Linked DNA regions of Homo sapiens: region 1 is linked to region 2. Evidence: fine-mapped expression QTL. A gene starts in region 2. The other region holds a variant in brackets. All regions are shown on one strand. Distances are between the middles of the regions. Region 1 overlaps ZFYVE26 (zinc finger FYVE-type containing 26). Region 2 holds the start of RDH11 (retinol dehydrogenase 11).

Region 1 (2,500 bases), 76 kb after region 2:
ATTCAGAATGTCTCATCAGTCTTCTCCAAATTATATACCTTCTCTATACATCCATATTCTGATGTGTGTAATATAGTAATAATATTACCAAGCTCATCAGGTTATTGTAAAATTTAAGAGAGATAACTTAAGCAAAGCACTTAGTATCATGCCTGGAACATATACAGTAGGCAGTCAATAAAGGCCAACTGTTGTCATTATTAGAATTTAAAGATTAGAAACTCTTTCTATAATCTACCCTATATGTAAGTAAACCTTCTATATGGTGGTTTCAAAGCTAGAGAGCAGCTTGTCATGCAAAACTCCTTTTGGTGGCTTGTCATATGTCTCAACAAGCCACAACCAATTGTCCTCCTTGAAGATTTGTAAGTTTAAATAAGGAAAATACCTGACTCTGCTTTCCTAATATCTTTTTTTTTTTTTAAATCAACTTTTATTTTAGGTTCAGGGGCACATGTGCAGGTTTGTTACATAGGTAAACTCGTGACTCAGGGGTTTAGTGTACAGATTATTTTGTCACCTGGGTAGTAAGCATGGTACCTAGCAGTTTTTCTTCCCTGAACTTCTCCCTCCTTCCACCCTCCTCTGTCTCAAGTACACTCCGTGTCTGTTGTTCCCCTTTTTCTGTCCATGTGTTCTCAGTATTTAGCTCTCACTTAAAATTGAGAACATGTGGTATTTGGTTTTCCATTCCTGTGTTAGTTTGCTTTGGATAATGACCTCTGGTTCCATCCATGTTCCTGCAAAAGATATGATCTTGTTCTTTTTTATGGCTGCATGGTATTCCATGGTGTATATGTACCACTTTTCTTTATCCAGTCTACAGTGGATGGGCATCAAAGTGACTTTAAAGTACTGCTTCATTTCATTCTAATAGAAATATTACACCTCTTTTATAGATGAGGAGGAAACAGACACAGAGCAATTACATCACCATCGTTTTCATCAGCGTTGAGCTGATGTGGCATACTGGGCAGGTACTGCGTTAAGTATGGTGACACATATTATCATATTTAATCCTAACAGCTCCATGAGCCTAAGAATATATCATCCTTAGTTTACAAGTAGGCACATGAGACCAAAATAGTGTATAGTCACACTGTCATTAAGAGGCAGAGCCAGGATTAGAACCCAGGCCCTCTGTCTCCTGAGTCAGTGCATATAACCACTGCTGGGTCACCAGTCTT[A/C]CTGTCAAAGACATGGGAGCCAGAAACAAGATCCACTGACACCTGTTGACTCCTCCTGCCTCTTTTTTATTATCTCATGACAATGGCAAAGATTTTAGAATTTATGGCTGTTTGAGGGTGTCTACTACCTGTCTGAATCCAGAAAATACATTCTGGTCAGGTCAAAAATGAACCCAAAGTCTTAGATTTGGCAGTTCTGAAAATACCGATATTCTCCTGGGGACAGGCGGTGATTGTAAACTCAGGCTCATGAACTAGAATTCTCCTTTACCTTCTCCTGAGGGTGACAGTGGAGACCGATGCTGCTTACCATGGTGAAGTGCTCCCTGCAGCAGACCATGCAGATACTCTCAGTCTCATCCGGTACCCACTGGTGCCTGGCAGGGGGTGTCGCTGGGGGCACAAATTCCTGTGAGGGCTGGGTTGGTGGGAAACTCCTTTCCCTTAGACTAGGGGAATGTATACTGGAGATACCTGGGAGGCAGAGCCAGAGGTCAGAGTAAAAGGTAATCAATATACCAGCTTATAGATGAAGAGGGAATGATAGAATTTTACCATTTTACAAACCGTTATTGAAAGAATAGATCCAGTTAATGATCATCAGTGACTGTTTGTGTCATAAAAGAGAGACAACTGAACATTGTGTGCCTCCTGATGGATGTGTACACCACCTGCTATCAAGTATACTTACTAAAAAATATTAAGCCTGAATCAAGTCCAGCTTCTAGACCTAACTACAAGTGTCCTGGAAATTCTGGGGATGAAGACGCAGATTGCCACAGGAAGGCAGTCAGCAAAATCCAGCATGTGGGAAGCTCCGGGGAACAAATGACTAGACTCCTCCACAAATAAAAAAGAGGTAGGGGGGATAAACAAGAAAAGAGGCAGGGAACCTATTGATTAAAGGCGCTTTAAGAGGCTGGTGCAGTGGCTCATGCCAGTAATCCCAGCACTTTGGGAGGGTGAGGCAGGAGAATCACTTGAGGCCAGGAGTTCAAAACCAGCCTGGGCAACTAGGCTGTCTCCATAGATGGATAGCAAGACTCCATCTATACAAAAGAAAAAAATACAGAAGTTAGCCAGACATGGTGGTGTGTGCATGTAGTCCCAGCTACTAGGGAGGCTGAGGTGGGAGGATTGCTTGAGCCCAGGAGTTCAAGGTTATAGTAGCCATGATCATACTACTGCACTCTGGCCTGGATGACAGAGGGAGACTCTCTTAAAAAAGAAAAAGAAAAAAAGATTTAAGAGATATTTCACCAAATGCCATGCCATGTATGGACATTATTTAGATCTTGAGTCTGGAAAAAACA
Region 2 (3,033 bases):
ATTTTCAGTTCTGGTTCAACTTTTCATTGAGATTCTATGTGGATAAGAGGATCTTGTAGTGAAAAAAAGATAAAAAGCAGTGTTTTCATCTGAGTGTGAGAAACCATGTGTGCCTAGAGGTGGGAGAACTGAGTGTTCAGAAGGCAGAAAAAATATAACTGGAAGAGGGGCACCAGAGAAGGAAGAGAAAATAAAAATAAAAGAAGGAAAGTAGGTGACTGTGGTAAGAAATGACTGTGATCTGGCCTGGCTTCAAGTTCTATTGGGACTAAGACCGCCCACCTGGGGAAGGAGTGTGTCTGTCTATTCAGTCACTGGTCCGTCACCACTGGTGATTTACTTAGAACCAATAAGCAGGCTGCCGGTTTTACAGCCCGCTGCTGATTCACTGGGGCACTTGGCCAGCCTTGGGCTGATTGATCTATCACCTGGTCAATACCTTCCCACCATTCTCCCAGCCCTCACCGCCCCAGTACCCTAGCTCCTAACTCAGATCCCCCGTGCTCCTGCTCGCAAGGCAGGATAGAGCTCATAACCAAACACTCTTCCTTTTCACTTTTCTCCTTTACAACATCCGCCCACAGAACAAGCGATTGTAACAGCAACGAGAGAGCAAGGATGGGGCCGCAGATGTTACGATTGCTATCAGTTTCAGAGGGCGAAATGTGGAATCGCTCCTTTGTACCTCGAAGGCTGGTTTAAGGCGTGGGGAATAAGGGGAAAACAGCGTCGGGCCATATCCCATTGAAGAGTCCGAAACTCAAGCGTTTGAGGTAGCCTTACCCTCGGGATTCCCTGGAGCCAGAATCAGGGGGTGCTTAGACAAAAGAAAAACAGGCCAGGGAAAAGCAGTGTGCCCCGGACTGCCGCCCTTTCTCACCGCCTGGGGTCTCGGGTGTCCTCCTGGCACCCAGGACAGCTGGACCTCGCCTCCAACCCACCGAACTCTGGGCTCCGCCATCTTGGAGCCCCCCCAGGGGAGTTTTCCAAGAAAGCTTTGGTGGGGATTCTATGTTTCCCTCCCGCCCCGCAACAAGAATTCTCAAGAGAAGGCAATACATTTGCACAGACCTGATTTGGGGCGCAGCCATATACAGAAGGAAGGGCAGAAGGAGGAGCAACAGCGGGAACATGAGCTCAACCATCTCTGCCGGCTGCAGCGGCACCAGAGCGGGATGCTCCAGCGTTGCTCGCCGACTATGGCTTCTCTTTCTAGACACGCCCCAATTCAAATTGCGACAGCCCGGGGAGCAGACCTTCTGGGAAATGTAGTCCAGAGCTTGACAGCCTCAGGCTGGCTACGTGGGAGCGCTGCCGCCAACGCTGGCAGAAGTTGAATTATACATCGCTAATCCCCAACCATCTAGGGCTTAGGGCCTGTGGGATCATTCACCCAGCTCTCAGTTATTTTTTCTGCCTTCTGAATACTCAGTTCTCCCACCTCTAGGCACACATGGTTTCTCACACTCAGATGAAAACACTGCTTTTTATCTTTTTTTCACTACAAGATCCTCTTATCCACATAGAATCTCAATGAAAAGTTGAACCAGAACTGAAAATAGTGCTCATACCCCAGAGGGATTTTTCTGGAAAAAAAAAAGTATACACTATAGGAATAGTACACTTATTCCTATAGTGTACTAGGCACCGCGGTGTTTGTGAAATCTCTGCAGTCCTCTATCTCCCCAGACCCAAGTCCAGTGCCTGGTTCAGTTTTCCCCAATCCTGGTTAGGCAGTTACCGCACTGTTTCTCCTGGAGATCAGATGTTGGCGTCTGGGAAATGAAAGGCGGATTAGACAGGAGAGGAGCGGTCCGAAGTCTGACAGTTGGGAAGGTGGGGGAATGTAAACCCTTCCTCCTCGAGGATTCCTTTTTCCAGAGAAGAGGAAGCAATAAGTCCTTGAAGACATTCTCAGGAGAATCACTTTATTGTGTCTATCTTGAATTATGGTGGCAACTATCATGATTTTTCTAGTGTTTGAGTGTTCATTGATAATAGAATATCGTCTTCCTGATGGCTTGGGTCACATACATTAACTCCCAGGGTAGCAATGAATATCTCAGATTGGCACAGTTGGTTTTGCCAACTCGTGAAAGTATTTAATCCTGTCTTGAATTAAGGCCATGAATATGTTCTCTGTGAATAAATAGGTTCCCTGTTCAATAGTTTCTTTCATCTGAGGCCTATTTCCTGGGGGTGAAAGTGGAGGGTGTTTTAACCAATCAATATCTGTCTGTGATTCCTTAATTGTACCCAGTAATATTTTCTGGTCCTTTTGCATAATTTCCATTTGGTTAAAAGACACGGGTTCCAATGAACTAATATATTTTATAGCAAATTGGAGAAGAGAGGGTTTCCTTCACACAATACTAATTCCTACCAATTTAACATTAGATTACCTAGCAATCATCACATTTTGTCACATTCTCATTATTGTGTTACCTAATATTTGTATTGGGTTTTATAACTTTATAAAAGCCTTTCATTTGTTTTGTTCCTTATTCAGTCATTCACGCATTTGACAAACATTTATGGCATTCCTATAGTGTACTAGGCACTGTGCTGATGTCCAGCAGGAAGCCAGGAACACATAATCTCTGCTCGCCCGGAGTTCATGGACTGTCAGAGAAGACCTTAAATAAGTAATCACTGTAAATAAATCATGGTGAAGGTTATGAGGAGGATTAGAGAAAGCTCTGGGAGCTTTTACAAGGGAGAGGAGTTCTAGATCAGGAGAGGCTTATTTGAGGAAATAACATTTGAGCGGAGGCCAGAGGGAAGTTAGTAGGCAAGCAACATAGACAAGAGTGTGCTGAGCAGAGGAAAGACCCCACCTGAGGGTTCACAGTCAGAGAAAGCAGGGTGCACTAGAGCAACAGAAAACCGTCTAGGGAGAAGGGAGAGTGCCAGAAATGGCAATAATAGCCAGTGCTTAAATACTGCTTAATTATGGCCAGGCCCTGTCCCAATGATTTATATATATATATTAACTCTTAATTCCCATAACAACTCTAAGAGGTAGGTACTATA

Evidence for each region.
Region 1: its variant is fine-mapped to the expression of RDH11 in whole blood (TOPMed, PIP 0.93).

The regions. Positions count from the first base shown.
Region 1 is chr14:67,770,550-67,773,049 of GRCh38, forward strand. It overlaps ZFYVE26 (zinc finger FYVE-type containing 26), which reads right to left. Exons shown (of 42, transcript NM_015346.4): 28 at 1,498-1,661. Among named protein-coding and RNA genes, the nearest start is that of ZFYVE26, 45 kb to the right of the region's middle. The variant A/C (reference allele first, on the strand shown) is at 1,188.
Region 2 is chr14:67,694,559-67,697,591 of GRCh38, forward strand. It overlaps RDH11 (retinol dehydrogenase 11), which reads right to left and starts at 1,206. Exons shown (of 7, transcript NM_016026.4): 1 at 1,072-1,206. The coding sequence starts at 1,145. It also overlaps a transcript of GPHN not described here. RefSeq lists a silencer at 314-373 and enhancers at 723-1,359, 1,404-1,453, 1,474-1,523.